Regions from separate parts of the Homo sapiens genome. Here region 2 is linked to region 1. The links come from fine-mapping of genetic effects on gene expression. A gene starts in region 1. The other region holds a variant in brackets. All regions are shown on one strand. Distances are from middle to middle.

Region 1 (4,520 bases):
TGGATGTGATGAAAAGGGAACACTTTAACACTGCTGCTGAGAATGTAAACTAGTACAACCACTATAGAAAAACAGTATGGAGAGTCTTTAAAGAACTAAAAGTAGAACACCATTAGATCCAGCAATCCCACTACTGGGCATCTACCTAAAGAAAATGAAGTCATTATATAAAAAAGACACATGCACATGTATGTTTATAGCAGCTCAATTCACAATTGCAAAGATAGGGAACCAACTTAAATGCCCATTAACTAAAAAGTGAATAAAGAAAATGTGGGATGTCTGTGTTTGAGTGTGTGTTTGTGTGTGTGTGTGTGTGTGTGTGTGTGTGTGTGTGTAATACTACTCGGCCATGAAAAGAAACAAAATAAGTCTTTTGCAGCAAATTGGATGGAGCTAGAGGCCATTATTGTAAGTGAAGTAACTCAGGAATGGGTAACTAAATATCATATGTTCTCATTCATAAGTGGGAGTTATGCTATGAGGATGCAAAGACATAAGAATGATATCATGGACTTTGGGGACTCAGCGGGTAAGGGTGGGAGGAGGGATAAGGGATAAAAGATTACATACTGGGTACAATGTACACTGCTCGGGTGAGGAGGCACTAAAATCTCAGAATTCACCACCAAAGAACTTACCCATGTAACCAAAAGCAAAACCCCGTACCCTAAAAACTACTGACATTTTTAAAACAATTTTTAAACAATACAGATGGATTATACCGTGTACTAGAGACAATAACACCGTCCCTAGCAGCCAAATACCTGCTATGCATGTGCTCTAGCAACGTCATACATAGGGTGGGATGGGCTTCTCTCAGCCCACAGAATGGGTAGCTTTCCAGAAAATTAGGTCTTTGTTACAGAAAATTATAGACACACTCCCCAGTAGGCCCAAATGCCTCTCACCCTGCAGCCTTGCCCCACAATGGAAGATGAAGAGATGGCACACCTGGAAACTGGACTAGAACTTGAGGTGTGTGTTTGGATCCCACCCTTACCCCTCACACAGTCTCTACAGTCAACCAGCAGAGTGGCTCTGGTACCCACATAGAGGCAACTCAGACAGCAGAAGCAGTTGCTGGAAAGGATCGAATCAGGTGCTTGGCTCCGGAAATGACGGGTGCACGTTAAGACACACTGAGAGGAGCAAATGAGCCCTGGATGCCCAGCAGCTGAGCCAGGGTGACAGAGAGACTGGGCAGGGGCTCTGATGCCAGGTTCCAAGGACAAAGGCTCGGCAGGTGGAGGGCCAAGAGGACCACAGTCCTCTGGAAGCACCTTCACCTTGTCTAAGATCCTCCCTCCACCTGCCACCTGCCTTTGGGCTGAGACCCGACCTTGCTCAGTGGGACCTTCTGTCCCAGACGAGGTTCCACATGGTCCCGGGGTGGTATTTCTCCACATCTGCTCACAAAGTATCAGGACTGTGACTGACACCACCTCCCAGTGCACTCAGCTCATTGTTCATGCCAAAGGAGCGGGCACCTCCCTCTTCATGCCTGTCTCAAGAATTACCAGAAACACAACAGCCGACAAAGTCCCTGTCCCAGGCAAAGTCAGTCCTGCCCAAAAGCAATAAAATAACGTCTTTCTTCTCCATACTCCACCTCAATTTGCTTTTCTTCTAAGAAAAGTCCCTCGGGAAGGTATAGCTGTGTTTCCCTGCAGCCTGGGGTGTAAATGCCTGATCTTGGAACCCTTCCTGAATGCGGTTTTGGGTAAGACACTGGAAAAAACTTCTGAAACTGAGAGGCCACTCCAGGGATGCCAAAGTCAAATTTGCTCTGTCCTCAGCGGACCGTTGCTGAGTTAAACCCAGTCCGGCTGGTTGTTTACTTATTGTTTACTTACCTTCAGATGCTGTAGGCTAAACGTCCCCAGGACTTGTAACAAGGAGAGGCAACATCACAGAGGTGGGGATTGGTAACCAATCACAGAGAAGCGGCCGCCCAAACCTCTGTTGTCCTACCTTCCCTCTCCTTGAGTTAAAAAAAAAACAAAACAAAACAAAAAACAAAAAACGTCTCGGAAATTACATAGACGTCCCTCAGAGTCCCTACCCTGGAAAAACGGGGTCAACTTCCCGCACCACCCTGCCCAGGCTCCCTTGGGGGTCCCCAATCCCGAAGGGTGGGAGTTCGGATGCCGCCTCCTTCACTCCCTCCCTCCTACCACCTGTAGGAGACCAGGACCAGGTCCAGCCGGAAAACTCACCGCGCGGCCCGGGAGTCGCCATGATGTGGACGCAGACCCCGCCGGCCCGCGGCCGCGCGCTTCTGGGCAGGCTTATGCCGCCGCGGGGCTAATTCCATCGCGGCTCAGCTCCGTCCCGGCGCGCCCGCCCCTCGCCGGCTGCCGCCTCCTCCTCCCCCATCCCTCCCGGCCGCCGGCGCCGCGCAGCCACAGCCCAGCTCTCCCCGCTGCGCCCTGGGCGCCCGGGTGCTGGGAGCGGGGCGTCGAGAATGGAGCGCGGTCCCGCGGCCGGGTTGAGTCCAGGACACACTCGGGTCCGTGGGGCTGAGGGGCGAGACAGTAAACGCTCCCTGCTCCCCCAGAGCCGGGGCAACGCCCCACAACCTGCTTCGAGTGTAAAAATTCAGTCGGATTATCTCATGAACTGTCTGGCTGATTAGTTTCCAATCCTGCCAGCAAAACCTTCTTCCCGCCGCCCCAAAGGGTCATCCACTGCCCAAGAGTTAGCCCTGGGGCGGGAGTGGGGGCGAGCCCCTGGACGGCGGATCTCCCACACCTGTCTCCATACTAGGTGGAGACCAGCTGTCCTCACCTTCCCCTAGGTTAAGCAGAACAAAAGGGAGAAGAGGCAGGTAGTAAGTGCACAAGGGACCGCAAAACAGGAGGGGCTGCCAGAGGCAGGAGGAGGGGTCCATTTTACAAGAGCTCTCCCATGAGACGCTAGGAGGGTTAAGGAAGGTTGAGGGAGTAGATGATGGAAGCTCCATCCCCAGAGGGGAAGAGGAGTGCCATCTCCCCGGGACAGTTCACGGACCTGGGCAGGGGGATGGGAGGGAAGACCTCCAAAGGGCCCTTCTGCACGATGGAATCTGCAACTCCAAGATGCACAGAAGTAAAACAAGTTCATTAATACCATGGACCCCCAAAATGAAGAAGTACTATGTTAAGGTCAAGTATGCCATTTGTGATCACTGACCTTCAGGCATGAAGATTTTCTCTCCTATATTGATAAGGTAGGCTGGTCATGATAGATCCCACTTTATAGAGAAGGAGCCTGGGGAAGCAAAGGGGAGTAAGTGACACCACAGTCGAGGGCAGAGCAGAAGGAAAACCACAAGATGTGATGTCCCAACCCAGGCCTTTATTCCATCCACTGCAAGTACTACCAGCTAATGCTTCTACAGGACTTCCTCTCCACCCAACACCCTTCTCAGTGCTTTCCCTATGGTAGTTATTTTAATCCTAACAATAAGTATATGAGGCAATCACTGCAGTGTGCCCATTTTACAGATGAGAGAACTGCAGTGTTAAATGGCAAGTAACTTGCCTCTAAGAGGATCCTAGGATTCCAAAGCAGGCAGCCTGCCCTGGAGTCTGTGGCATAACACTCTGCTATTCTGCTCCTTTCTGTCCCTAACAACCCCTTTCTCCCTGTCTACTTCCAGGGACCGTTATCATGTCTTTTCAATCCCCAAACGATTGAAAAATGGTCACCATTGCTCTTTCATTCATTCCCTTTCTTCTTTCCCTCCAGCAGTTTCTTAGTGTCTATATACTCCTTCCTTGAGACTCCCCTTAAAACATCCACTTTGGGGCACTCTGTCTTGCCTGGTCTGAGGGTGAGTAAAAAAGAGGGTCCCTGAAACCAGGTACAGATAGTGCCTTTGGAATACCTGTAAATAAAAGAAGACTGCCGAGACACCGCTCCGCACACACTAGCCCCACAAGTTTCTCTTCTTGCATCCTTTTTACCCAGCTCTCTTCCATCGTTTTGGGTTTTTTTAAAATAATCAAAACATGCAGTTTTCCGATTCAGCTTTTTTCTTGACGGTAAAATGACATATCAGTAAACATGAGAAGTTCAAGCTAGCAAGACACAGGCAGTTGGAAAATCAACCACCTATGCTGCAGTGGTAGCCTAGCCTTCCTGCTGAATTTCTCCAGAGCTGATGCCTCCAATAACACCTTGTCCCCAGCTAGAGTGTTAGGCGATCAGTCAGAAGAGTGACAGTTAATTCCCTGTCCCTGGATCTGGTTTCCTACCAAGAGAGACCTTAGAGGCTACCCAAAGTTGGGAGTGGGGTGATGGATGGAGAGACAGTAACCTTTGAATTACTGAGTAGTTACATAAAACTTCTATCCATTCTTCCTTCCTTCTGCCCCACTAAACTCCCCACCAAGCCTACTCAGCATAATCTATGCCATTTTCCTGTAATGTGGCTTCTCTTAAGGTTAAGCTCAGGCAGTAACAGAAGTGGTGGGAACTTAAGGGTGCAGCAGTCACTGGTCCCCATGTCAGCACGGGAGGAGTGTAAGCAACAG
Region 2 (4,000 bases), 180 kb after region 1:
CACCCGTGCACCCGGCCTCTTCCGGTCACTTCTAACCCTCCATTCCCACTGACAACCCCAGAGCCATCACAGGTAGTGGTCTGTATCAGCTCTGCCGTGATTTATAAAATGGGAAAATCCACTTTAAATAAAATCTGGGGTCACCAAGGTAGGGAGGGCATGAGCCTTCAGCTTCCCAGGGGCAGGGGTTCAGGGGTTCTCTCCAGCTGCTCTTCCAGCTCCTCCCCAGCTGCAGCCTCTGAAGCAAGTTGGGACCCTCACGGTCAGTGTTGAGGATGACTTTCTTATTTGTCATGCCCTGGGGCGCCTCTGGCCTTTTCACTACCTCCCTGGTTACCACGGCCAAGGCCATTCCGCCTCCTACCTCTCTCCTTTTCAGGACCATCTTGGCAAAGAACCAGTTTCCTCTCACCACTTCCCTGCTGCACAAGACCCTATACTAGTTCCTCACAGCCTGCGGAATCGACTCAAAGTCCCCATCAGACTCCAAGACCCTACACTGCAGCTTCACCCGATGGTACAGCCTCCCAGCCTACTCTCCTCCAGTCCCGCACCCTCAAAGTCTGGTTACCCACCCTAAGAGCAGCAGCAGCAGTTGGGAAATTTTCAGGCCCCCTTCCATTTCTACTGAGTCAGAACTCCAGGGGCAGGGCCCAGTGATCTGTTTGTCACAGCTCTCCGGGTGGTCCTGATGCAGCCTGGAGTTTGGCAACTGCTGCTCCAGCCACACTGACCTCCCCAGGGCTCCATGTCAGGAGTACATGCCCCTTCCAGCCTCCCCACTTCTCATGCTGTCCCCACCACATGCAGCACCCTCCCCTGTCTTCTCTGGCCAATCAAAGCTCCTTCCCTAGGGCTCCTCACACACACTCTGTAAACATCTTCAGACCAGGCATGGTGGCTCATGCCTGTAATCCCAGCACTTTGGGAGGCTGAGGCGGGTGGATCACCTGAGGTCAGGAGTTCGAGACCAGCCTGGCCAATATGGTGAAACCCTGTCTCTACTAAAAATACAAAAATTAGCCAAGCATGGTGGCACCTGTAAGCCCAGCTACTTGGGAGGCTGAGGCAGGAGAATTGCTTGAACCCAGGAGGCGGAGGTTGCAGTGAGCCAAGATCGCACCACTCACTGCACTCCAGCCTGGGCAACAGAGCAAGACTCCGTCTCAAAAATAAATAAATAAATACATAATCTTCAGCACAACAGAGAACTCGGTGAGCTAAGCACCAGGAAACACAGATGAGTGAGACATGCTCCTTGTCCCTGAGGAGCTCATGGAGGAGTGGGAAGGATGGCAGTGCCCAGAAGTCATATGTGATAAGTTTCCCAGCAGAGTCAGGGCAGGTAGCAAAGATGGCCTCAGGGAGAAAGCAGGAATGCGGGGAGCTCATAGCTATAGCCAGGTGCTAGACAGAGCCTAGCCCAGTGCTGGGCACATGGAGGACCCTGTGTCAGTCCCCGCTGACTGATGGAGCAATGACCCCAGGAGCCCTACAGCCCAGATCTCAGGTAAGTGTCCAGGTGTTGCCAAAGACTCCCTCCTTGACCAAACTTGAGTGGGGCACTTCTGAGCCCTCTTCTAGATTAAGCCTTGGCCTTGGGCTCTGTCCTTGGCCTGCTTAGTCCAGTTTTTTTGTTTTTTGTGGGTTGTTTTTTTTTTTGAGATGGAGTCTCGCTCTGTTGCCCAGGCTGGAGTGTATCTCAGCTTATTGCAACCAGGTTCAAG[C/T]GATTCTCCTGCCTCAGCCTCCCAAGTAGCTGGGATTATAGACACACACCACCACACCCGGCTAATTTTTGTATTTTTAGTAGAGATGGGGTTTCACCATGTTGGCCAGGCTGGTCTCAAACTCTTGACCTCAGGTGATCCACCCACCTTGGCCTCCCAAAGTACTGGGATTACAGGCATGAGCCACCGTGCCCGGCCTCAGCTCCACCTTTTATTGTCTGTCAGGCCTTGGAAGGATCATGCAACCTTCATGAGCCTTGGTTCTCCATTGGTAAAACTGGGATGACTACAGCTACATCCCAGGGCTGTTGTGGGGATGCAGGGACATGGCAGGGACAGTACCAGCCCTTCTGCAGGAATACAGGAAGTCCTCAGCATAAGCTGATGTTCTGATCCACAGGCCACCAAGAAAACAACAACGAGTCTTCTCTCTGGCAAGGAGTTTTACACGTTCCAAAGCACCTTCTCTAGTTCATCATTTGCCTTGATGCTGTGGAGTTCCCAGGGCATCGCCGGGCCCCAGAGCAACGGACACAGTGGACTACCAAAGATGAAGACTCTCTTCATCCATCCCACCCGGCTCCCGTGGGGAGAGACCCGGGGAAAGCCAAGAGGGGCTACGTGTCACAGAAAGGCTGTTCCTCTCCTTGTTCTCAGCAGTGACCTTTCCGCTCAGACACTGTCCTGAGAGCAGGAATCCTCCCCCACACCAGGGCTAAGCTCAGCCAGCCCTCCCTCTGAAGTCCTCCCTGCAGTGCCCAGAACTCACCAATAATCGAGAAGGAGCGTTTCTGGCAGCCCCCTGCCAGGAGGTAACTGCAGTATCCCGCAAAGCTGTACATGCTCCCATCAAAGGTGTTGACGAAGTCACTTCCGAAAAGGCTGCATCGGGCCGTGGATGACCTGCCGCGAGTTCCTTCTGCACAAAGGGTCCCTGGAGGGAGAGGCCACAGGTTGGGCTGGTGATCTCAGGGCACAACTGGGACCATCAGCTCAAACCTCTCTGGCCTCGTAGAAATTAGACTGCCTCTGATAGAAACTGGGCTGTGGGGAGGTATTTTCCATCCTAAATGAGACTAAAGCTGTTGCTTTCAGCTCCCAGATATGACCCCAGACTCACAGCAATAACTAAGGAACAGTTTTTCAGGAAATCCATTAGTTTCAATGACATTTACTTACTGATTTAAAATGTCATCATGTCCATTATTAAAAATTTGGGGCATACAGAAGAAAACAAAGAAGCTGGCCGGGCACAGTGGCTCACGCCTATAATCCCAGCACTTTGGGAGGCCGAGGTGGGCAGATCACCTGAGGTCAGGAATTCAAGACCAGCCTGCCCAACATGGCGAAACCCTGTCTCTACTAAAAATACAAAAACTAGCCGGGTGTAGTGGTGGGCGCCTGTAATCCCAGCTACTGGTGAGGCTGAGGCAGGAGAATCACTTGAGCCCAGGAGGCAGAGGTTGCAGGGAGCCAACATCATACCACTGCACTCTAGACTGGGCGACAGAGTGAGACTCTGTCTCGAAAAAAAAAAGAAAAAGAAAAAGAAAAGAAAAGACAAAGAAGTTAAAACCATCTGTAACCCAACATTCAGCGATGATTAGAGTTAACATTTCAATGTTCATCTTTCCATTTTGTTGTATAGCATATATACAGCTGTGGGTTTTTTATAAATTGGTGACCAACTTGTGCAAACTACCTATAACCTCTGTTTATTTCTCAATAGATTGTAAACAATTTGTCGTGCTAGTGTATATACTTCCAATATGCGGTTTTTAGTGGCTGCATTATATTTTGCATCTGAATGTCTATAGTATAGCCCTCTATTGTTAGGTTTCTAGCATTTTTCCATGTTTTAATATTATAGATAGATTGCAGTGAGCATCTTTGTACATAAATCTACTAGCATGTCTTGGGCATGTTAAATTTTAAACAGATCAGACTGTGTGCCTGACACATAGACTCTCTGAAGTGTGAACTCCTCCGGCGTCACAGGCTAACTCCTTCACTGACTATGGGTGTGTGTGTGTCGGCAGGTGGGGAAATACAGCAGTAAATCTCTAAGTGTTCTGGGTTCCCCGGCAAAAGACCCACCTAGTAGGAAGATGCAGAGAGTGTGACAAATGTGTATTTTTTTTCCCAGACTCACCTGTGGGCAGTAGCTGGATGCTGCTGACCTGAGAGATCTAAGTGGAAAGCGCCCAAGGTCAAAAGTCCCCTCCCGCCATTTGCAGACCCAGAATCTTAGCAAGGGAAGGGCAGCAGTATGA

The links. PIP is the estimated chance that this variant, and not a neighbour inherited with it, causes the effect.
Region 2: its variant is the best candidate, but not a certain one, in a credible set for the expression of ANO2 in thyroid (GTEx, PIP 0.81).

The regions. Positions count from the first base shown.
Region 1 is chr12:5,942,977-5,947,496 of GRCh38, forward strand. ANO2 (anoctamin 2) reads right to left here and starts at 2,283. Exons shown (of 25, transcript NM_001364791.2): 1 at 2,220-2,283. The coding sequence starts at 2,241.
Region 2 is chr12:6,118,678-6,122,677 of GRCh38, forward strand. It overlaps VWF (von Willebrand factor), which reads right to left. Exons shown (of 52, transcript NM_000552.5): 3 at 2,497-2,661. Among named protein-coding and RNA genes, the nearest start is that of VWF, 4.0 kb to the right of the region's middle. RefSeq lists a silencer at 226-520. The variant C/T (reference allele first, on the strand shown) is at 1,728.